Homo sapiens: one gene and its partners. The protein of the gene in region 1 interacts with the protein of each later gene in a pairwise test. Each region holds a gene or a part of one and is shown on either strand. Other genes may lie near its edges. The genes, in order: TRAF3IP1, TRIM9, FAM135A, C20orf96, AKAP6, MYO5A and TRIM3.

What was found.
Region 2: the proteins of TRAF3IP1 (region 1) and TRIM9 interact in a two-hybrid assay, tested with the Homo sapiens proteins (one large-scale study listed by IntAct).
Region 3: the proteins of TRAF3IP1 (region 1) and FAM135A interact in a two-hybrid assay, tested with the Homo sapiens proteins (one large-scale study listed by IntAct).
Region 4: the proteins of TRAF3IP1 (region 1) and C20orf96 interact in a two-hybrid assay, tested with the Homo sapiens proteins (one large-scale study listed by IntAct).
Region 5: the proteins of TRAF3IP1 (region 1) and AKAP6 interact in a two-hybrid assay, tested with the Homo sapiens proteins (one large-scale study listed by IntAct).
Region 6: the proteins of TRAF3IP1 (region 1) and MYO5A interact in a two-hybrid assay, tested with the Homo sapiens proteins (one large-scale study listed by IntAct).
Region 7: the proteins of TRAF3IP1 (region 1) and TRIM3 interact in a two-hybrid assay, tested with the Homo sapiens proteins (one large-scale study listed by IntAct).

The regions. Positions count from the first base shown.
Region 1 is NC_000002.12:238,344,518-238,348,017, reverse strand, and holds part of TRAF3IP1 (TRAF3-interacting protein 1), read right to left. Parts: coding exon 3,420-3,500; intron 564-3,419; coding exon 543-563; intron 1-542.
Region 2 is NC_000014.9:50,980,106-50,983,605, forward strand, and holds part of TRIM9 (E3 ubiquitin-protein ligase TRIM9), read right to left. Parts: exon of another isoform or gene 3,317-3,500; coding exon 3,275-3,316; exon of another isoform or gene 3,177-3,274; intron 2,861-3,176; coding exon 2,837-2,860; intron 2,395-2,836; exon of another isoform or gene 2,218-2,394; intron 1,999-2,217; coding exon 1,695-1,998; intron 1-1,694. UniProt on the Homo sapiens protein: E3 ubiquitin-protein ligase which ubiquitinates itself in cooperation with an E2 enzyme UBE2D2/UBC4 and serves as a targeting signal for proteasomal degradation.
Region 3 is NC_000006.12:70,525,008-70,528,507, reverse strand, and holds part of FAM135A (protein FAM135A), read right to left. Parts: coding exon 1,810-3,500; intron 217-1,809; coding exon 56-216; intron 1-55.
Region 4 is NC_000020.11:277,251-280,750, forward strand, and holds part of C20orf96 (uncharacterized protein C20orf96), read right to left. Parts: intron 2,081-3,500; coding exon 1,922-2,080; intron 1,180-1,921; coding exon 1,080-1,179; intron 134-1,079; coding exon 1-133.
Region 5 is NC_000014.9:32,332,298-32,335,797, forward strand, and holds part of AKAP6 (A-kinase anchor protein 6), read left to right. Parts: intron 1-3,500. UniProt on the Homo sapiens protein: Binds to type II regulatory subunits of protein kinase A and anchors/targets them to the nuclear membrane or sarcoplasmic reticulum. May act as an adapter for assembling multiprotein complexes.
Region 6 is NC_000015.10:52,319,381-52,322,880, reverse strand, and holds part of MYO5A (unconventional myosin-Va), read left to right. Parts: intron 1-1,371; coding exon 1,372-1,522; intron 1,523-3,500. UniProt on the Homo sapiens protein: Processive actin-based motor that can move in large steps approximating the 36-nm pseudo-repeat of the actin filament. Can hydrolyze ATP in the presence of actin, which is essential for its function as a motor protein. Involved in melanosome transport.
Region 7 is NC_000011.10:6,456,942-6,460,441, forward strand, and holds part of TRIM3 (tripartite motif-containing protein 3), read right to left. Parts: intron 1,356-3,500; coding exon 1,124-1,355; intron 907-1,123; coding exon 755-906; intron 536-754; coding exon 355-535; intron 89-354; coding exon 1-88.

The DNA of each region.
Region 1 (3,500 bases):
ATATACTTTATATTCTGGAAAAAAATCCTGAAATGTATTGTTTTCAAACTTAAAACATATAAATTAAATTTCAAATTAAATTAGGGTAGTTGGCCAGGCGCAGTAACTCACACCTGTAATCCCAGAACTTTGGGAGGCCGAGGCAGGTGGATCACCTGAGGTCAGGAGTTCGAGACCAGCTTGACCAACATGGAGAAACCCCGTCTCTACTAAAAATACAAAATTAGCCGGGCGTGGTGGTGCATGCCTGTAATCCCAGCTACTCAGGAGGCTGAGGCAGGAGAATTGCTTGAACCCGGGAGGCAGAGGTTGCGGTGAACCGAGATCATGCCATTGCACTCCAGCCTGGGCAACAAGAGTGAAACTCCATCTCAAAAAATAAATAAATAAATAAATACATTAGGGTAGTTATGATCTTTTTCCATAAAATAAGTTACTTTCACTAATGCACTTTATAAAGCATGAATCTGAGAGTCCACATTCACATTCACACACATGCATACAATTGATATGACACACAGGTATCTAAGGCCATTCCTCACCTGCATCACTGGTGGAGTCACCTAAAGAAAAAGCACATCAGAAAATTAGCTTTCGTGTAGTCAACCTCAATACATTAAATGATGAGAACAGAATTGGAGAAAAAACACACTGTACATAATTTTGGATGTCTGCTAAGAAAAAAAGATCATTTCCTCATAGCCGCTTTTCTAATGTCCCTATTGCCATTTTGTTTTATTTTCAAAGATAGAAAAACAAAGAGCAAACAAACTGTGCATCATAAAATGGTACTAAATAGAAACAGGACACAGGGATGTGGAGAAAGCACATCGGAGAGGAAGTTAACAAGTTCATGAGACAAGAATCGACAAAGCCAGAGCCACAGAAAAAGTGCATCCAAATGTGAGGGAACGATGCAACAGTCTGAACCCGGCCAACCAAATCCCGGGCCGTTCCAAAGACTGGGAGACAGTCAACAACAGCCCATCTTATAGACATGATTGGTAAGCATTTTTCCATCAGCTCCTGAAAGCAGAAGAAAATCTTCCAGCTCAACAGAGGCCCACCTCTGCACCTTCACCCAGGATCCTTTTTCTTCAAGTGTTGTCTTGAGGACAAATGTGACCTAAACGGTCAAAGTAAATGAGCAGTGGCACCACAGGGGTGGGGTGATTCAAAACCACAGGTGGGAAATCTCTGTTTCACACTCTTAAGATGCACGAACGCATTTGCAGAAGAGCAGAAAGCGCATGGATTCACATGACAGCCCAGCACACTATACGGCAGAGAGGAGGCAGCAGGGCCTGATGCAGCGCCTCGTTTAACACGGCCCCGCCTCAGACAGGAACAGTTCATGCAGCCTCGAGAAATCAGCCTGGGTTATTGTGAGGGTCCACACCGAGCAGAGTGAGGAGCACTCTACAGACACCTCTAGCTCGTTTATTCACAGGAGGACTTTCTGTGAGCATAACAGCCACGAGCTCATAAATGCTGCCTTAAGAGGGTGGCTCTGGCAGGGAGAGAGGGGGCCAAGCTTGTGGATCAAGGGGAACCGGGAGGCTCTAGAGGACTCTATTAGTATGGGCCTGAGAACCTCCAGAGGTCACACCCCACAAAGTGCCACAGCACAGGGGGTAGCCTGGCACCCACCAGGGCCTAGGGGACTGGAGGGCACAGTGGTTAGCAGGGGGCTGGAGAATGTGGTTCCAGATAGTGCCACTACAAGGGCAGTTTCAGAGACCCCAGCACTTTGGGCCAATGGGGGCAGAGGACTCAGCTCAACCCTGGGATGGGACTGCTGGGGACCAAGAGCAGGTGGCAGAAGATCTTTTCCTCATGGCTGTGCGGCCTGGAGCGTGTGCTTAGCAGAAACCAGCACTGAGAGTCCTCGTGCGACCTGGGGGCAGGCAGCAGACACAGTTTCAAATCCCCGGCTCTTTCTTCAAAACACCAGGGTGTTAGGAACAGACCCTGGATTAACACAGCACTCAAAAAGGTGCCTGAGAGGTGCAGTTATTCAACCACAAGGCCGATACCCAGAAGGAAAGTCAGCACAGTGAACTCTCTACCTTTCAATGGATACTTCCAGTCCCCGTTACCCAGAACCCAAGGCACCTGCCACATGGCCCACACCATCCTCCCCGACGCCTGTGCTTCCACAGCGCCAGTGCTCTGCCAGCTCCTGCACTCACAATCTCGTCCTAGGTGACCCAGTCCCCACCCAGGCTCCTGCCATCACCCAGCGCCAGCAACTCTCACAGCTCCTCTCTAGCCTGGGCCTTCCCTCTACGCTCCAGGCCAGCTCCCCCAGCACGTGCCAGCAGCCCTGGAATCCTACCACTTCTCCCCTCCCAGGGCGCCTCCACAGTCCAGGCCTCTCTCTCTTCTCTGCACAATCTTTAACCCTCCCTAATTAACATGGCCACTCTTTAAAATCTAAATATCATTATACTGCTCCTCCTAAAGATATAATTAGCCTCCCGCTGCTCTTCCAATAAAGGCTAAACTCCATAAGCTGGCACAGGGACCTGGCTCTGGCCCTTCCTCTGGGCTGAGCCAGCCCTGCTGCAGTCGCATCCCAGCCGGGATCTTGGTTTATACAGCCCCTTCTGCCCTGCAGGCTTTCTGGGCCACCCTCACCAACCAAGGCCCCTCCCGTCCCAGACTGCCACCCCATCAAACGATTTCGGTTGATCTTCGAGCCTCATCTGCACCAGGAAGGCAGGAGGCCAGCCTGACTTCACTGGCTCATGCGCTCCCAGCCTCAGGGCTGACATGCAGTAGGCCTTCAACAGATAATTTTCTGTTTGAACAAATCAACAAACATCAGCCCTCCCCTGGCCACACCCCACCCTGCCGCTGCCACCTGCACAAGCCTTGGTTACCTGGGCACTGGTACCCTTGCAGGCCTGTTAGGAGCTCCAAGGCCTCAAAACACAAACATTGAATGGCTATTTTACCAAAGTTTTTTTAAAGGCTGAGAAAATTTATGGTGAAAGTAAAATCCCACTGAGGTATAATTCAACACTCAAAGAAAATGACAGACAGAAAAATCATGGTGGCCACAGCACTGTGACCATGAAGTCTGGGGGGTACACCTCTTGACTGGTGGGGCTCTCCAAGTAGTGACCCCGAAACTTTTCAGGGACCACTCATGACACCCCCCAAGTGATGAAACATGCCACCTCCTCTCACTTACAGAGCACGGGGGAGCACACGAGTGGGTCCCATGCTATCAAGAAACCACCATGTTCGATTCTAGTTTATGCAAAAAGGCAGAAGTGAATCACTGTGAATCACTTGCCACGTTCAGACCCAAGAGGAAAACCTCGGGCTCTGGGCTGCGGCCCTTTGAGAAGAAGGTTCTGGAGGGCTCACTCTGCTCTCGCCAGGAAAGGGCGAAACTGGACCATTCTTACCTTTCTGCTTCTCTGTGGGGTTGGGCTGAATATTCTCACACCGCAGACTAGCTGAATTATCATCTGAAATACTAGTTGAGT
Region 2 (3,500 bases), on another chromosome or scaffold:
CATTAAACAGAAAAACTCATTCCAGAAGGATAGCAGTTTTTTGGCTTGTTGCATTTGAATTAAGAACTTGGAGGCTGTCTGTGAAATGACAGCACTGAAGAAGAGGCTTCTTCTCTGTACAGTGAAATAATTATACTCTGAGATGTAGTGATTTTAAAGAACCTGCATACAAATGCCATTTTACAAAGAATTGTGTCTTATGCTTCAATTGATGGTTTCACAAAATGCCATTAAAAATGGACGATCAGATTTGTCTTTCCCATTTTTTTGAGATCTAGCAATATTGAACTTCGTCCTCATCTCAGCAGAGCACAGGAATTTGTGTCATTCATTTCCTCTTGCATGCAGGATACAGACTGTACATAGTCATTAAAAGACAGGTTTACAAATTGCCTCTTGCTACTTCACAGGTTTAACAATGAAAGCACAAGTGACATGCAGGTTGCATGCAAGCAGATGTGTTCAGCATTAAGAATGTGTTTCTCTGCATAGTGTGATGGTTATGTCATTATTCACTCCTGCACTTCAAAACAAAGACGCTAAAAGGGAAAAAGTAAGTGTGGCATTTGGGTGATAGCACTGAGAATCTATTGACAGAGAGTTCCACAAAATGCCGATCACTGAAGATAACCACTTATCTACATCCAGTAGGATTTGCTTTCATGGTGAAATGGTGTGTGTGTTCACTTCAAGTGACAGCGAATAATACACACTTGAATGCTATAGAAGCTATCCAAGGGAAAAGGAGGCTTTAGGAGTCTACAGGCTGGAGAAGGGTCAGTGATGAGCATACAGAAAAAGATAAAACAGTGGGGTCCAATTATCCTACCAATGTCTGACTTGCTTTCCCTTTGATCTGGTTGAACACTACTGTATTTTTTTTTTTTTTCAGAGACACTAATGAGAATGTATCCTGGGGAAATCTTGGAGCATAAGGTGGACCAGGGTCCACAGTAGAAATTTCTCTGCCTAGGAAATTTGTGAAAAATACATTTGAGGAACACAATCAAATGAGAAAGGAAATCCATTATAGTATGTGTTCAATTATAATGATCTATATTTTGGTGGTAGAAGAAAACCTCAAGGAGATTACTGTATTTCCTTTCCTTAGCAAACTGGCTGCTCTGGATTAATACAGTAATAAGAGAGTTCTCTATAAGTAGAAAGCCATTCAAATTGGCATCCATAAGCTTTAGTTTAATGAATCGTAATAAGAAGAATGGCTACTATTTTCAGGTGCTTCCAATGTAAGGCATTTTCACATATTTCATTTAATCTTCAGAAGATTCCCACAAGGAAAAATTTTATTGTACTAATTTGATGGATTTGGAAACTGAGGTTCAAAAAACGAAGTAACTTGCCCAAAAGTGCTTTTCTGTTAAGTTGTAGGTCTGGGTGTTTCAGCATCCTGGATTGTTTTCTTATAATGGATATCCATTGGGATTCTTAGTTTCCAGCCATGGGTGAAATACAGCAATGAAGGGAGTAGGAAAGTACTCAAGTCTCTATCATTATATAGAAAGTAAACCACCAGCATGGACTCAGCTGAGGCTCATAGATTGCCTGTGCTACTTAATGTAGACCACCTGTTTGATTTCCTGAATGTGGTCTATGTAATAGGTTTTTGAACTGGGGCTCTCACTCCTGATCAGAAGCCAACGTGAAGAAGGCTTGGTTTGGGGGCTGCAGGGTACCTGTTGGTGTGCGAGTTGTTGTGCATGAACCAGCTCCGGTTATTGTCCACATACATTGCCCAAGCTTTGTCGTCTTTTCCTAACATCACATCCTTCATCACGTCCATGCGAGCCACACCAAAGGCAGGATCAGGGTGGTTGTCATAGCGATCTACCGTGAGCTCCCAGTAGTGGATGCCCTTGGAGAAGCCAGTCTTCCCTAGCACCACCCGGTCATCATAGCTACTACAGGTCACTGTCAGGTTGTCATTGGAGAGGATGATGTCCGAGTGCGCCGAGCCAGGGTCGAAAGCAAACCAGGCCACTGGGAACAACAGAAGGGAATCAGGTTATTAAGACAGACCCAACAAGCTCAGCACCATAACATACTCCTGGGCGGGTGAGGAGCGTTGTGTAGCGTTTTCATGCTGCCATGCAGGAAGGAGGCGTCCAGGGCCAGGGCAGACAGGGGCACGTCCTGGGAGTTGGTACTCTCTGCACCAGAAGCAGACGGAGGACACACGACCGATTCAGCAGGGGTTACCTGGCTCAGACTGCACTCCCAACCAGGTGATCCGGGAGTGAAGTGGCATCGATTTTGGAAGGTGCAAGTCCCTTCACCTGGTGACTGGCAGAACAGTGCACCAGAGACATAAAGGGAGAGGGGATGCGCTAAGATGCCTGTGTAACCCCTGAGGCGGGGAGGCTAGGAGCTAGAGTCCTAGATGGAGGAGGGATAAAACACATGGAGTGAAATCAGGAAATATCCCTTCGGCAGAAGTGCTAACATCTAGTCGCTTTGAAGTCTTCCTCGGCTCTAGTGAAAGCTCACAAGCTGCGAAGCTATAAGCAACATAAACTAATTTTCATGAGTGATTGTGACTTGCATGTAGGACAGGTTGCTGTCTGCATAACTTAAAAAACACAGTTTGCGTGCTACTCCTGAAACTAACACGTCAGAAATTTTGCTGGAGCAGTAGGAATTTCGGACATTAGGTGCAGATAGAATGATGTCTTTGTACGCATTGTTACGCCCCAAGTTCTAAATGCCACCTATAAATATCACACTCGAGAGATGTAATTGCTGATTTATTAAACCTGTGAGACACCTCACATGCACTTTGGTCTTTGCTATTTGGTAACAGAATAAGGTTATTCCATACCTGCCAACAGCTTTTTAATGTCAACTGTTGTCATTCCAAGTGAAAGGCATGGGGGAGAGAGATAGGAAGCAAAATTGACATGGATAAGAAAATGTGTCTCTCTTGATAGACTAGTACCCCAAAAGGACTCAATTTAAAATGCCACATATACTAAACAGGTGCTCTCTGACTTGTACCTTTACCCACATTTAGTGCTCATAAAGAGTGCTTTGCACTGATGTAAAAGAAAACTGGGGGAAAAGTAAGGTTTGAGGCATAACATTAAACACTACAGGCATCTTTTCCATTTTTTAAGAGTTTGAGAAACTGCTATAATAGGGTTAGAATGACAATTAGACAATTTTATTGACATAAGACAAGTTGCCGCCATTTATTTTGTGAAGGAAATTGAGCACACCAATCACGTAAGTAAAAGATAATTACAATAGGTATACTTGCCTAATTGAGAGTAAGGTGCAGATTGTGTCTCAAAATTGCATCCTATAAAGAGATACTACACATCAACGCTATGAAACAACAACCAGGTTGATAAAAATTACTTGTATACGCTTAAAAAGCACCAGTTGAATATAGATACCAGAGGCCTGATCCATGAAAAAACAAAGCCCTTTTTATATTATTTAGTTTGTTGGGTAAAAAACTGCCCCTCTGCTCTTTCAAAATG
Region 3 (3,500 bases), on another chromosome or scaffold:
ATTAGGAAAAAAATATATTGAGTTGCTCTGGGTTACATCCATAGATGTCACATACCATCTAAACCGTGCACACAGACAATCAGATGTACTCCATCTTCAGAACCATCCTCTTCTTCTACACTAAAATAAGGTACTGAGGATGCCAGCAGAGGAACTTCACTGTACATGAACCCAGGAAGTTTTAGTAGCTTCAGTTCTTCTTTTGCCTGAAGGAAGCTGAAGCAAAATACAAAAGATACTCTTTACTAAGGATCATATTCAGTTGTTAGAACCCTCCTGAATTTAGAGAATTGTAGAAGTGGAAACCCAACAATATTTGGTTTTAAAACCATGAAAATATGTGGCATCACCTAAGTGATTTAGAAATCAGAGAGTAATTTTCTTTATTATTTGTAGTACATATTCTATCAAATACAATGAACACTTTAAACCTGAAATCACTTGAAAATATTCTTTTAAACTTGAAATCAACTCTAAGAAAACATTCTGAGTGAAGTTATACTTTCTGCAAAATTTAACACTGTATGCACAGAAAAGCTGGGAGAGGGACTGGAGAGGTGATAATCTGATGTTTATCCTGTAATGAAATCTTATCCCCTTTGCTCCTTTTTAATCTTGCATAAATGGAAGGGAAGGAGTGATTTACAAAATGTAACAGTGAGAATGGAGTTACAGTATTTAGCAGATTAGGTTATTTGTATTTTTCTCTAAAAATACCAATAAGAAGGAGCAGAACGAAGAGGGGAATGTGACTGCATACAATTAGTGGTATATACTCGTTTGCAATGACGGACAATCTAACCAATTTGGGGATTGCAAACATCAAAAATTATTAACTATTTAACATACATCATTTGGACTGATAAAGTGAAGCTGGAAGAGGAACCTGATGAACACTAAACTGAGTAGGATAAGCTGGCCAAAAATATATAAAGTCTATATTAGAGATCATTGCTTTCTGATGACTCAGACAATCTGAAGTAACCAGACGGTGATATAAACTTTATTTTCCCTGCATATCACAATTTTTTAATTGGCTATTGTTACCTCAGTGGTTTCACTAGCTTTAGACACTATGTATCTTAATTTCTGTGTATAAATCAGAATAATCTGGGAACTTTAAAAATCTCTCTCTATATATATACATGCCAAGACCTCTTACCCCAAATATTATGACTCAGTCTGGCTGAGGCAATAGAATATTTTAAGAACCAGTGCACGCTGGTAAACCTGTATCATCGCCAGATTTTTCTGGATATTTTACTGGTACATGAAATCTCAATTCTGGAAACCAATGACTTAGCTGAAGGCAATCAGCATCTGGTAAGTTCAAGAAGTTTCCACTACCCTGTTACTCATTTAACTAATATTATCCTTATTTCCTAGATAAACTCATAAAACTTGGCTTTTGTCTGGAAGTTAATGGAGGAGAAATGAGGGACTGATGAAAAAAGGGTTTTAAGCTCAGTTATTCCATACTTCTAACACAAAACTACCATTGGAAAATCTGTATCAGGAATGTCTATCCTATAGAACAGCAGAACAGCACGATCATTCAGCAACTATAGGTCTGTCTGGCCAAGGGTATATTATGTTCATTTCTCCATTTCGGATAGTCATCAAAGAAGCACTTTTGTATTACAGAAACCAGACAACAAAATAGACACTCAATCCTTTAGCACTATCTATGATTTTATATATATATGTGTGTGTGTGTGTGTGTGTGTGTGTGTGTGTGTGTATGTGTGTGTGTGTGTATATATATATGTATATATTTAGCAGCAGGTACTATTACGTTCCATTACTTACGCTTGTATTTGAGGTTTTGGTGAACTTTCATACCAGGAAATCGAAGAAGTGAAGTTGTAAGAAGTACTGCTTGGCTGCTTTGTAATGGCATCAAATTTACTTTTGGAAGAATATTTAACATTACAAGGAGACTCTCGTGGTGCAGACGGGAAGGACAAACAACCAGAAGTACAGACAGTAGGCATGTTTATACCATCTCTCAGATAGTCACTGTTTATTTTTTCAGATTTTGTAAGTCTTTCTTCCATTAGTTCATCTCTGCTTGTATAGTGAGCATTTATTGTTCCATCCAAAGCTGAATAATCTGTTTCTTCATAGTACCCATTTTGAACCATTTGTTGATCCTGCTCTTCCTCCTCATCCTCTTTATCCTGTTCCTGCTGAAGATTACTAATTTCTTTTTCAGAAGTTTCCTTCTGAGGGCTAAGTGCATTGCTGTAGCTAACAGCACATGTGTCAGAAATATCCGTACTGCTTTGAGAACCAAAATAATTTTCCACAAGCCCTTGCTTTACTATATCAGTACTGGCTGAAAAAGGATCACTTGTACCCAGATGAGTTTCACTTTCAACTGTAGGGATTTCTGAATACATCTGTGTGAGATTTAATACATCACTATTTTTTTTCATAGTTCTATCTTCACTAACATCTGTATTACTAGAAATGGAACCTGAAATGACACAAGGAGTGCCTAAACAAATCAGTTTTGAATTTAATGTAATTGCTGTCCCTGTAGAGTTATTAGATTTATCAGGACTCTGGAAGCCTTTACACATAGTATCCAAGTTAGGTTTGGAGCTGCAACTACTTTTCACATCACTGGAAGTCTCTTCATCTGAAAAAACAAATTGTAAAGGGTCTTTAATGCTTGAATTTAAGGAATGTATTGCTACAGTTTCATTGTCCAAGTTCCCTGAAAATACAACACTCTGCTGTTGCAAAGTGATACTTGACTTTTTAGTATCATCACATTTTGGCAAATCAGTCGTTCCTAGATTTAATACAGTTTTGCTATCATTTAGATGGCATTCAGGTACAACAGATTTCTTAGAATTTTCATCAGGTGACAGTTCATCATCGGAGGGTAGAGAGTTTATGGATGTCAAAGATGACTGTATTTCACTTATAGCACTTGTACTCTCAGTACAATGATTTCCTAATGAAAATTTTACATTATAATCAGGTTTCATCAAAAGCTGAGGAAATAATCTTTCACTATTGCAAGGACCTTGCCCTTGCACAGTTTCAAAGACTAAATCAGTGTTTGGATGTGTCGCAAAAGAACTCGGTTCACTTTCAACACCTGAATCTGAAAATCTAGATGAGGCATATGTGGCACTAATATCTGGTAACTTAATTGTATCTCCACTTACTACAACATGATATTCTTTTGTAGAAGGGGCAGGTAGATTACTTCGTAATTTAGTTAATGATTCTCCAATAGAAAGACACTTTGCTTCTTGCAAAGCTTCCTTTTCAAATGTTATTTCTATAGATTTAGATTTACCATTAGATTCTAAGGACTCAAAGTTGGGTAGTAAATTATCCACAAGTATTTCCTCTTGTCGAAGCTCTGTCCAAGGTCCTAGTTTGACAGTTATATTCTCTCCACTGAAAGGATCTTTATTACTGGGCTTTATTTCAATTGTTCTAACTCCCAAAGATGGGGTTGTTTGATGATCATGGCAATC
Region 4 (3,500 bases), on another chromosome or scaffold:
AGCTGGCGCATAAGAGTGGAGATCTGGACAGACTTGATGGAATACTCATGGTCCATGTAAGTGCTCAGGAAGTTCACTTCCTCCTGGGTCTTCTCAATCTTGGCATTCAGCTGCTCTGCCTGCTGCTCAAGATCTGGGGAGGGGTTAGGGAGGTCAGCAGGGACAGGAGGCAAGACCTTCCCTCAAGCACCTGGGCCCCAGGAGGCCCAGGAGGCAAGGTCTCCTTGGCCAGTAACTGGGGTCTGGGCTGAGGTGAGCTCACACAGGGCTGGGAGGTGGTTAAAAGTTAAGGCTCTAGACGGTTTTCCACCCCTGCAGGAGAAGAGGCAATGCTGGGTAGGAAAAAGGAAGGGAATTGGTGCATGATCCCTAGACTAGTCCCCACTCTGCCACTGACTTGCCGGGTGGCTCTCGCCAAGACTGTCCCTCTCCAGACTTCAGTCTCCTCAGAGACACACTCAAGGAAGTGAGACCAGGCAGATGGGGTGACAGTGGCTCCCAAGACACAACCCATGGCAGGATTAAGACAAAGTCTATCCTGTCTTCCTCCAGAGAGACCCCCAATGTCTGGGGTTGACTGATCCACCACCCCTCTGCTCAGCAGGTGTGTAGTCTGCTCAGGGAAAAGGAACCACAGGCCAGGCAGGATGGAAGCCAGGAGACCCAGGTTCTAGCCCAGCCACTGACTCCCAGAAGGACCTTGGCAGGAAACAGAGCCAGGCTAGGATTGGATTCTGGCTCCTAGCTATATAACCTTCCACAAGCTACTGCACCTCTCTTAGCCTCGGTTTCCTCATCTGTAAAATGGGAGGACAGCTTCCCTGCCTCCAAGTAGTTGCAATGACTGAGTGTGTGCCTGTAACAATGCAGACATTGGTAGAGACCCAGATACGGGGCCTGGAAAGAGCTAAGTGTTGGGTAACTATGCTATTCGCTCTGTATCTTAGCATTCCCATCTGCCAAGAAGAGAGCCAATGGGGCTGAGGGTTTCTGAATGGCAAGTACAAGGTGAATGCTCTGCTGCTGACCTCCCCAAGGTGCCAGGGGGGAGGGTCAAGGAATTTGCCAGGGATTCTTACAGCTCATCTTGCATTTCTTCTTTTCTTCCCACTCCTGAAGCTCAGATTTCAATTGCTGCAGCCTCTTCTTGTTTGAGTACTCCAAGATGTCGATGATGGTCTGCGGGAGGGGTGGAGTCAACTCACCCACAGGCTCTGCTGGCTCTCAGAGGCGGCCACCCAGCACTTCCTCAGAGGAGTCCCCAGTCCCAACCTCACTCCCAGAAACCTGACCAGAGGCTAATCGGGACAGTAACAGTGTCCACCCATAGGGTTGTTGTAAGGACTATATAAAGACATACAGATCGCTTGCTATTACACGTAGAGGTGTTTGCAAATGCTGTTGGTGGTAGCAGCGACCTCTGTCGCACCGGTACAGTATGTGCCCGGTGAACCCCCTCTGGGACGGGTGCTATGGTGCCGCATTTCACAGAGCTCGGGGAGGCAAAGTTAACTAAAAGTCTCCCGGCCAGTGAGTGCTGGCGCGCTGGGATGAAACCCATCTCGGTCCTCTTGCAAAGCCCAGGTGAGGGGAGTGAAGGGTGAAGAAATGCGTCTTCCAGGTGGAGGAAGCACCACGTGCAGTGGGCGGGGAAAGGCAGGAGAGGGCGCGCGAGTGCGCGGAGGGAGGGCGGGACGGAGGGAGGGAGGGCGGGACGGAGGGAGGGAGGGAGGGACGGAGGGCGGGACGGCGGGAGGGCGGGACGGAGGGACGGAGGGAGGGCGGGACGGAGGGCGGGAGGGCGGGACGGAGGGAGGGAGGGAGGGAGGGACGGAGGGCGGGACGGAGGGACGGAGGGAGGGAGGGAGGGACGGAGGTTGGGACGGAGGGACGGAGGGCGGGCGGATGCCGCGGGTCTCACCGCCAGGGTGTCCTGCTGCTGCAGCAGGGCCCGCACGTGCAGGGTCGTGCTGTTCTCCATCTCCTGGATGGTCTCGATCAGCTCCCGGTTGAGCTTGCTGAGGAAGTTCTCACGGCTTCGGAGCTCTCGCAGAGCGGCCCTCCCGCTCCTGAGCGAGGTCTGCGGGCGGAGGGAAGAGCAGAGAGGCGGCGCTGCGCCCTGCCCGGCCTGAGCCCCCGAAAGCCCGTGGACCCGCCGCCCCGGCCCCGCCAGACGCCCGCCCCCGTGCGGCCTCCTGCTGGTAAACGCGGCCCAAGCTGGGCGGTTCCCCATTGTCTGCGCCGCCCGGGAGCTCCGGGACTCTCATCCGTTCGGAAACGCACGTGTACCCATCATCTCACATCCCTGAGGTGCGGGTGCATCTACAGTTGGTGGCGTGTCACCAACTAATCAACAAATATATTATTAGTGGGTAAATAAAGATGTGCCTTCATATCAATGGCTTCTCAGAATCAATGAAATATAGAAATAATAGTAAGGGCCGGGCGGGGTGGCTCACGTCTATAATCCCAGCACTTTGGGAGGCCAAGGTGGGCCGATCACGAGGTCAAGAGTTCGAGACCAGCCTGACCAACATGGTGAAACCCCGTCTCCACTAAAAATACAAAAATTAGCCGAGCGTGGTGGCGCGTGCCTGTAATGCCAGCTACTGGGGAGGCTGAGGCAGGAGAATCGCTTGAACCTGGGAGGCGGAGGTTGCAGTGAGCGAGATGGCGCCACTGCTCTCCAGCCTGGGCGACAGAGGAAGATTCCTGTCCCAATAATAATAATAATAATAAACGCCCCAGGTAGGTTAAGAAGGTGGCAGAGCGACCGCCATGTCTGGAGGAGAAGCAGGGGAGGCAAAATGGATGATAAACGTCAGCATTTCCGGGCAGGCCGCGGAGTCAATGAGTACTCTCATTTCACACAACAGCCCCCAGTGGAACAAGGAGGGTCTGAGGGTTAAGTGACTCGCCTAAGGTTACACCCAGCAGGTGCATAAAACCTACAGTAACAACAACAACAACAATTGTACTTCCCTAAGGTTACACCCAGCAGGTGCATAAAACCTACAGTAACAATAACAACAACAATTGTACTCCCCTAAGGTTACACCCAGCAGGTGCATAAAACCTACAGTAACAATAACAACAACAATTGTACTCCCCTAAGGTTACACCCAGCAGGTGCATAAAACCTACAGTAACAATAACAACAACAATTGCTGAGGGCCCTCTACATGCCAGGCCAGGTGCTGTGCCTTGCTCTGCAGGTGGCACATGGTATCTGTTCACCCTCCAACAGCTTTATGTTTACTAACTCTATTTTGCTGATAAATGGAGGCTCAGAGAGTTTAATGACTTGCCCAGTGTCACACAGTCAAGAAGTGGCAGGGCTGGAACTGGAAAGCCAGACTTCTGAATCCCAATGTCTGTCTTTCCGTTATGCTAAAACAAGAACTGAGTAGCCTTAAAACTGCAAGGCATGGCTGAACCACGTAGTGACTAAGACTTGGATGTTGAACCTAGACACACCTTGGTTCAAATCCCAGCTCAGC
Region 5 (3,500 bases), on another chromosome or scaffold:
CTCTATCACACGTACCCCACCCCTCCTCATTCTAATTGGAAAATCAGATTTCATATGTAGAATGAAATGTCATTTGCAACACTAAGGTTGATTTCACTGTAAGGATGAGCATGAATCTTGATCAGATGTGAATATTTACTTTGTACCCAGAGATTTAAGTAATGAAGAGTTGATGCTTAGACTTTTGCCACTGCCCTTGCTTGATATAACTTTCTAGCAGGATCTCTGTATGGAAAATGTTACATCAATAATTGTGGGCATGATGGAGTTGCACTCAAAGCAGGTCTTACCTGAGTCAGTAATGATTCAGCTTTGTTATAAACCTGTCTTATCAGCTATATTTGTGGTGCTTTGTTAACTTTAAGATGTTTGTATTCCCTGCTGTTGCACCAGGTTCTGTTCTCAACCTGGTGTTGAGAACAGAAGCAGAAACTTCTCTCACAGTCTGGAAAGTGTAATCTGAATCTATCTCTTAGGTTAAGAAGATAGAGGATTTATTTTGCTGAATGTATCAGTGGCTGAAACCAAACTCTGTCTATCTCTGACAAAGTACAAGAATGACAGTCTTGTGTAATAACCTGGAAGCCTTGTGTTTGAGGAGAGCTGATATAGTCATTTCTGTATCATCTTGCTCATCCCCAGCTATCCACGCCCAGCGTCATTATTGGGCTCTAAGGGCTGTTCTTTGTTTGAGTGTGGGGCTAATGCACACACTGACAGCATGTTGATATTGATTCCTGTATGGTGAATACTTAGAAATATTATTCCACAGGGCTCATTAGCCTTTTCTAGGTTCCAGGAAGAAGTTAACCTTTGTCCTAACCTGCTCCAAAGAGGCCCAAGCTTGTGTCTGCATGAGGTACAGGAATGAGAGGCTGATCAGAAAGCATCAAAGCTGCTAGGTACAATGACTACAGGAGTTAGGTTCCAATTAGGAAATAAAATAGCCAGTGGAATTTAGGGAAGTTGGTGGTCTTGCTACATGTCTCTGATTTTCTTCTATTTATAATCCTAGAACCCATGAATGGCAGTTTGTTTTGATCGCATGGATTCAATTCAATTCAATAAATATTTATTGAATATCTCCTATATGCCAGGCATTGTCAGGGAATCTATAGCAATGAGCAAGACAGATGCAAATCTCTTCCCCAGCTACATTCTAGAGGGGAAGGGAAAAATGGGTAAATTGGTAAAATAATTTATTTCCTCTAATACTGCAATACTATTTCTATTTACTTTTTATTCCATGTGTTATTAGAGAAGCCCATTATCTGTGCACATTTGTATAGGTACATATAGCTATATGGTTTATATGTGGAGGTAAACTTACTGCATTAAATAATAACTTTTTTTTTTCTTGCATGGGTTTGGATTAGAATCTTTCTGGATGTGGACAAGACCAATATGGCAATTAGTATTTTTTTGGTATAAACTATTTTGAGAAATAAAATTATAATCAGTCAAATAGTGCATGTCTATCTCAGTTGACAAACTTGACATATGGAAATATGAAATGTGTGTGGCAGATCAGTTAAGGAGAGATATTTTTGTTTTTATAAAAGATATTCATCACCTTTAAAAATTGTCCAGAGAGCCCTCTAAATTGAGCATTCCAGCCAGCCTGCTGATGGAGGTATGTATCATACAAGGTACCAACTACACACTTAGTTGTACAAGGACAGGTATACCAGTTACCTTCAGTCTCATCTAATCGCCCTAGTGTGCCTTACAGTATTGCTTTAAATGGGAAGCATTTCTCGAAACAATCATATTGACTGAACTCTGTAGATGGGCCCTGAGTGTGGTTTTTCAGAGGAATAGCAATCCATATAGGACTTTGGCCATGGCAACAGAGTTTTAGGTACAGTAGCCCCTTCCGCGCCCTTATTTGTGATTTAGCCTTTTGTGGTTATGGTTATCCGTGGTCTGAAAACATTCAATGGAAGATTGCAGAAATAAACAATAAGTTTTAAATTATGCGCTGTTCTGCATAGTGCAGTGAAATCTCTCACCATTACTGTTCTGTCCTGCCTGGGATGTGTATCATTCCTTTGTCCAGCATATCCATGCTGTATATGCTACCAGCTTGTTAAGTCACTTAATAGCCGTCTTGGTTTTCAGATCAACTATCTCGCTATCATAATGCCCATGTTCAAATAACCTTTATTTTACTTAATAATGACTCCAAAGCTCAAGATTAGTGATGCTGGCATATTGTTACAATTGTTCTGTTTTATTATTAGTTATTGTTAATCTCTTATTGTGTCTAATCTATAAATTAAACTTTATCACAGGTATATATGTATAGGAAAAAACATAGTATATGTAGGGTTTGGTGCTATCCATGGTTTCAGGCATCCACTGGGGGTCTTGGAACATATTCCCTGATAATGAGGGGGACTATTGCAGTTTGAATTAATAAGGCATACAGTTTCTTCTCCACGAGCACATACCGGTCAGTAATTGAATTCCTGAGTTGGCTTTAAGATTTGGTGAAGATAAAGGACAGACTTTGTTTTCCTCATAAGCCACCAGCCATATTTTTCTCTGTTCTTCAGCCATGGGGCATGCTCCAAACTCTTCCAGCCATCTTGCAGTGGTGTGCTTTGAGTCACAAGGGTAAGTAGGGAGAGAATGTGGAACCTTTATTTTATTTTCAGATTTTTTTTTGGAGACAGGGTTTTACTCTGTTGTTCAGGCTAGATTGCAGTAGTGCAATCATTACTCCCTGCAGCCTTGAAATTCTAGGCTCAAACGATCCTCCCACTTCAGCCTCCCAAGTGGTTAGGACTGCAGGTGCACATCACCCCACCTGGCTAGTAGAGCCTTTAGAATGGGGTCTCAAACTGGCTAATACATGAGCTAAACCTAGCCTGCAGCTTGTTTTGTATGGCTGCTGGGCAGGCTTTATGGGTGTGCAACCTGTGTAGTTGCATAGGGCCCTGCACTGAGAAGGGCCCACACTTAGTTTAATACTCTGCTGTAACCATCTTGGAATTCTTAATAATTTTTTAATAAGAGGCTCCACATTTTTATTTTACAGTGGACCTTATGTAGCCAGTCCCATATGGCCCTTTTGGTGCCCCCACTGATACTGCCTGAGCCCTGTAGATGTTTGAGTTTCAGACTCCCCACTTCCTCCTACTCTGGAACAATTCAAATAGAAATTGTAGTGCTTAGAAAAACTAAGGGACCATTGTCAAAACAACCCAGAGCAAGGCCCTTGTAGATGGTAATTCAGTGGCATGCAAAGGAACTCAGTGGCATTTCTTTTATAGGCAATGGGGGATATATTACATTATACTTGAAGATATTTGGTAGGTGAGGTTTATTTGTCACCACCATTGCTTTCAGGGGAGAAATCAAATCTTCTTTGCAAAGCAAGCTAATTAACCATCCTGTTGGTTCAATGTTTATATTAATTCTCTTGCCCTTTGTTTACTACTTGATTACTTTTATCACCTGCTTTGTTTAACTCTCATTTAAATTACACAACATAT
Region 6 (3,500 bases), on another chromosome or scaffold:
ACATTGTGCACATGTACCCTAAAACTTAAAGTTTAAAAAAAAAAAAGAAAATTTTAATATTAATACTCTTGGACAATAAGAGGACCTTAAAATCCTTTAACTCTAAAAAAAAAAAGGGTGATCAAAAATCATGTCTTTCGATTTGTCCAAAAAAACTCTATTGTTTTTGTTTGTGGGGATATGTTCATTAGTTGTTTGATAGACTTCAAATATTTCAAAACTATGTAGAATATTAATAATGACTATTAAGGGCTGCTTTAGTATGTGTCAGACAGCACTTACTGTATATGGTGTTATTTATGATCATTAATTCTTACAGCATCTCTGTGAGGTAGGAATTATAGTCCAGTTTTACAGATGAGGAAGCCAAGGCTCACTGGGGCTCATTGATTTACCCAAGTTCTCTTGGCCACAAGGAGCAGAGCTGGGATCCTGGGTCTGGCACCGCTGAGGGCCCATGACCCTAGCCAACTGCCCTCCATGCCTCCCATCCCTTTGCCAGGAGGGCAGCAGAGAAGGTGCCCAGCGGCACTTCCTGAGCACTGACAGGCAGATGATGGGAAACACAGAGATGAGCAAGGCCTAGTCCCTGAGAAGATGGGGCCAACAGACCAGAATCCCTCAGAGGGGTCGTTGACTGCATCCTATCAGTCCCCACTTTCGGACCAGTCATTAAGTAGGTGGTAAGGAGGCAGATGCTTGGCTGTAGGGAGAATCCTCAGAGTAAGCACTTGCCTTTATCACGTAGCATCAGGCAAACAACGTGTTAAACTGCAAAGTGACTGGAAGAAGTGCCGCCCATTCAGTTCCATTTTAACAGATACCACCAAAGATTCCCTTCTAACCTCTGACTGAAAACCATGGTGTGGGTACTACGAAATAGAGTAAAGAGAACTTTTTGTATGTATTCACTAGTCTCTGTAGAAATCGGTCTATTTCAAGATTATATATGTCCTTTGGGTGTAGTTTTTAAGAATAGGACTATAAAGAACTGAAGTTAAGAGATAATTTAGATAATTTAGTGTTTGACAGTAAACCTGCTGTTTCAGAAGTGAAACACTCTATTTTTTTTTTTTTTTTTTTTTTTTAGTTAAGTTCCTCCAATTTGCTTCATTGACATTGCTATTGGGAAGACTTAAATGCTAGGTTGCCAAGTTAAGGTATTGTTCAAAAGCTAGTAAGAACTGGAGGGGGTTATGATGGAAGCAAACAAACACACATCAGCATTTGAGAATGTCAGTCCTGGCATTAGTGGGGAAGCTCCTTGGACAGAGCAGAAAAGAGCATGAAGATGCTGATCAAATTGGAGATAGTTAAACTGAAGAGACAGGTTACTTCATGTGTATCATTAACTTTGCCTTATGACTCTAGGGCTTTATGAAGCACAACACATCTCGCCAGAATGAACACTGCCTCACCAATTTTGACCTGGCTGAGTATCGGCAGGTGCTGAGTGACTTGGCCATTCAGATCTACCAGCAGCTCGTGCGGGTGTTAGAGAACATCCTTCAGCCAATGATTGGTAAGGCCAGGGCCCCACTGGGCATTGCAGCCTGCCTATCATTCATGCCCATCGATAAGTAGCCACCAGTGGCACATGTTTCAGGGCAGGTATTCATTTGGGGAGCATAAAGTAGTAAGATACAGGGCTAAAATTAGCCGAGGAATCCCAGAAACCCAGCCATAGTTAACTGGGATACATCGAAATCACTGTTTCCACAAGACTGAAACAGTAGTATATGGTTTCCTTCCCTAATGTTTACTGTTTAAATTCAGTTGAATGCATTGAATTTTAAAAAATTGTCTTAAGTTACCAAACATTGTTATCTTCCAGCAAATTATCAGCAGGCTCCCTTTTTTTTTTTTTTGAGACAGAGTCTCGCTCTGTCGCCCAGGCTGGAGTGCAGTGGCGCGATCTCAGCTCACTGCAAGCTCTGCCTCCCGGGTTCACGCCATTCTCCTGCCTCAGCCTCCCGTGTAGCTGGGACTACAGGTGCCTGCCACCACGCCCAGTTAATTTTTTGCATTTTTAGTAGAGACGGGGTTTCACCGTGTTAGCCAGGATGGTCTCAATCTCCTGACCTTGTGAGCCACTCACCTCGGCCTCCCAAAGTGCTGGGATTACAGGTGTGAGCCCCTGCACCCAGCCTATCAGCAGGCTCTTAAGGCTACTTCCAGCTACACTTTCTTTCCCCATGCATGCATTTTCCATGTTTCCACAACTTCTTCATTTCCCTTCTGTGGGCTCATAGTGTTCCCTTTGCTTTCATAGGCCACAGTTAACTAGCTATTTGAGACATCAAAAGCTGAAGAAGCCATGGGAGATGGCAATGTTTTCTTCAGATGTCCCTTAAAACGTCATTAAAGCACCCTAGGTTGGCAAAAATTTAGGAGGTAACACAGATACCAAGGTCAACTTCAGCCAGTTTTTCTATTGCTTTGCCTGTTTCTATTGGCTGAATAAGAAGTTCGCCTCAAAGAAGCCCCAATCTAAATCCTTACCCCCATCTCCCAGTCATTTAACAGCAACAACAAACATGCCGGTTCTAGGGAATCTGTGTTTAGCACAATTAAATAGCAAGATGAACCAGACGTGGCCTTTGCTCTCAAGGGGCTTGCTGTCAGGGAGTGGACATCTCAGAAACATTCTAAGGGAGGCATAAGCCAAATGCTAAGAGAGCACAACAGGGAAGCAGCCGGGCCACAGGTGAGAAGACGAATTCTGGGAGATGGAGGTCAGCCCAAGGGCCCACTGCTGTTGTGGGAAACCCAGAATAAGGAAGGGCCCAGCTCTCCAGACCCATACCACTCCCCTCTCCCACGTTTTCTCCAAGATGGTTGTCAGTGCCCTGCTTTTCTTACTGTTTTTGCCTCTGGGGCTCAGATAACATGGAGAATGCTTATCTTAACCCGAACTGCTACCTACCACTCTCAAAAGCCCACCCAAGACACACACACTTGTTCTATCACAAGGCTACTGCTTCTTAACGCTTCTTATTTTAGAAAAGACACCATTAAGTTTACTTAGATTCATAGTAAATTTTTGCAATTAAGAATTATTCCTTCAGTAAAGTTTAAAATCCGGAAGCCCTTTTGTAGTGAAGTTCCTTTTCCCTCTATTTTGGCACCCAGATCATTTTTTTCTTTTTTGAAATGGAGTCTCTCTCTGTCACCCAGCCTGGAGCCCAGATATGTGGTCTCAGCTCACTGCAGCCTTTGCCTCCCAAGTTCAAGTGATTGTCCTGCCTCAGCCTTCTGAGTAGCTGGGATTACAGGCACACGCTACCACGCCTGGCTAATTTTTGTATTTTCAATAGAGACGGGGTTTCCTTATGTTGGCCAGGCTGGTCTTGAACTCCTGGCCTCCAGTGATCCACCCACCTCGGCGGCCTCCCAAAGTGCTGGGATTACAGATGTGAGCCACCGTGCCCAGCTAATTTTCCTAAGTTGAATGTGCATGTGTTTGTGCACATGGATATGTGCACATGAAAGGTTCCCTT
Region 7 (3,500 bases), on another chromosome or scaffold:
CCAGGCGCAGTGCCTGCTCTGCAAAGCTGCAGCTACTGCCGATGTGTTCCTGACCCTGGCGCAGTGTGTCCAGCTGGCTTTGCAACACCTGATGAGGGGTAGGGGAGGAGTGGGTGAGCAGACTGGCACAGGGGGAGTCTCTGTGATTACTGAAGTTGTAGCACTGTGGCATAAAATACAAGAGGGTGCCTGTGGACAGAGGACACAGATGCCCACAGCACCTACCGAGGGCATGTCAGGAGGCAGAATATCTAGGCTGGGGAATGGGGAGCTGGTGTGGAAGACAGAGGAACAATGGAGGCAATAACACCATCACAATGGACGATGGTAGGAAAGGGTGAACACAAGACACACCTTCTGTTTGGCCCCACAAATGGTCTCCAGGTCGCTGACCAGAGCCTGCTTGCGCTGCTGCAGTGCTTGCTCCAGGTCCTCGAACGCTGCACTGATCTGGGCCAGGGCCTCTGCCTTGCGCTCCTGCAGCTGCTGGCTGATGCCCCCGACTAAGGCAATTGCTGCGGACAGCTGTGGCAATCTGGAGGGGGAATATCTCATTCCAGAGTTGCTGAGGGTGGCTTTGCCGAACTTTCCCTTCTCCCTGGGGAACCTACTGCTGCCCTCATGGAGATCTCCTTCCTGAGACCTCCCTGAGACTTCCATCTCTGCCCTTCCCAGACCCTTTATTCCCCTCCCCGCCCGAGCTAAGACACCATCCCTGTGGCCCCACCAGCCCAGGACCCTGCCCAGTGCCTACCGGCCACGCACAGCCTCGAGCTGGCGCTGCAGGGCCGCCTTGTGCTGCTCCACCACATCCCTCAGCAGCACTGTGCCATGCTCACGATGCTCCCCGGCGCGGCACTCACCACACATGGCCGTCTCACAGGCCTCACAGTAAAACTCCATCGTCTGCGGTACAAGGACTCCAGTCGGGTAATGGCTAGACATCACACTTCTTTGTCCCCTCCCCACCTGCCCTCCCTGCCCCTCACCTTCTAAGTGCACCCCCTACCTGGACCACTAATCCAGAGCAGTACCCTGTCACCCAGCCACTCGGCACCCCCCAATGCCTCTCCTCCTCCTCCCACCCCAAGTCCCGGCCTCACTGGGCCTCGCTTGGGCCCACCTTGCCTTCATGGTTGGGGCAGGAGAGAGGGCGGCCAGCCACTACACTGAGGGGGTGGGGGTCCTCCGGGTCGTGGGCCCCATCAGGTGCCTGCTGCATTGCCTCCATGAGGCTGCTGATGAAGAAGTTGTTCTGCAGTGCCGAGACGCCCTGCTCTGGGAGGATGGACGTCTGCCGGCATACTGGACAGGATAGCGTCAGGCTCTGGGCAGGGATATAGTTTTGGAGACATCTGTCCAGGAAGGAGAGTCAAAGAACAGAGTGGGTGGGGTGGCATAAGTGCACCCTTCCTTATACTTCCCATGGGTGCCAACCCCTTCCCTCACAGGTGTGCCATTACACTTCATTTTAAAACCTCTCTGCTTGACACATCTCATCTGCCAGCAGGTATAATGGCCTTGCCCCTTACAACTGAGTAGGAACACACCCCGACCCCTCTCAGAAGAGCAGACTATCCACATTCCTCACAGTGTGCACACAGGCTCACCTTTCACAGGTGTTTACAAATGCTTCTCATAGGAATGTGCAACTAGGCACCCCCTGCCCAACTTCTTTAACTCATTAACACTACTGTCTACTCTTGCCAAATTTATGCCAAGCCCTGGGGACAAAAAGATAAAGCACAGTGCCTACCCTTAAAATACTTCCCATCTACAGAGAAAAAAGTCACAGGAATAGTACAGAAGTAAATAGCATGATGATTAAGGGAATGGGTCCTGGAGCTAGGCTGCCCAGGCCCAACACCCCGTTGGTCACCTGTTATACTGTATGACCCCTGACAAGTTACATAACTTTGACAAGCCAAGGACTCTTCCTTTGTAAGATGGAGAAGTACAGACTTCACAGAGTGTTAGAGGATTACATGTAAAGTACTTACTTATATTTGAAGAGGATTAAATGTAAAATGCCTGACTCATAATAGCACTATATATGGTAGGCTACTTGTATTACTTATTATTAATATAAGGAATGATAGAAAGTGATAAGGAAATGCATCTGGCTCAAGCAGGTGGAGAGGGTGTCCAGGAAAGTCTTCAGAGAGTTGATGCAAACTAAATCTTCAAGGATAAATAATTGTTAGCCTGACCAAAGAATGGTGCAGGCAGAGGGGGAAGGGTAGTCCAGATACAGAAGGCAGCAAGAAGCAGCATAGTATGAATAAGCAACTGTAAGCAGTTTGATGTGGCTGGCTAGAGACAAAGTCCAAGGCAAGGAATGGTGACAGAAGTCAAGGAGCTTAGAAGTTATCCTGCCAGCAATAGGAAGCTGCAAGAGAGTGGTATAGCCAGGTTTATATTTTACCAAGCTCCTCTTCACCCCCTCTGTGTGGGGAGTGAATTTAAAGGGAATGAGACAGCAGATGGGGTTGGGGGGCGAGGGCAGTGGCATCACCAGCTAGTTACCATTTATTAAGTGCATATGTGCCAGGTGCCATGCTTTCTGATTACGTTTCTGTTAGCAGGAGAAAGGGCAAGTGGCCCAAGGTAACAACAGCAGTAGGTGCTGAAGCCTGTCTTCAAATGCAAAGTATGTGCTTAGCCAGCATACTCTTACAATCATCTAGGTAGGAAGTGAAGAAGACCTGGATTTAGGCAATAGTAATGTAGACTATGAGGTGGAAATAAATTTGAGAAGTGTTTAAGAAGGAGGGAAGGTGGGAGGTGTTGTCTGATTAGATATGGGGAGCAAGAGAGATGATGAGTCTTCGCTGACTTCCAAATTCCTAGCTTTGATAACTGAGTGGATAGTGGTGACATTCACTAAGATGAGAAACATAGAAAGAGGAGTAGCTATAGGAAAGTTCAGCCTTGTCCTGGTTGAATTTACTGTAACAATAAACACCCAGGTTGAGGTCACCAGTAGACAGGAGAATGAAGGTTAGAGACAAGAGATGGGCATGCCATCAACATTTAGATGGCTTCGGTAGCACTGGGAGAGGATGAGATCAGACAAGAAAGCATAGACAGTGATAAGAGAGAGGGACAGAGCACTTAGCAAAAACTGAATGAGGACAACAAAGAAGACCAGGCCGAGAGGCAGGAAGAGCAGCTGTGTTAGGGCAGAAAACTGAGTGGTACATTTCCAGGAGGGAATGAGTAGTCATCAGCGTTAAAAGCAGCTGACGAGTTGGGTAAGGTAAGGACAGGAAAATGTCCACTGAATTTGGCAAATGTGAGGGTACTTTGTCTGTAGGGAAAACAGGGAGGGAGTGGCAGGAGAAGGAAAGCTTGACTGCTGGAAGTTGAGTGAAGGGGAGCTTGAAAGTTCCAATGAGGAGCTGGTTGAGGGGTTGGATGGTGCTAGAAAGAGTTTTTACCTGTTTGGCATGGGAGTTTTGAGCATGTTTATGAATGGAGGAGTCAGGAGAGAAGGAGAG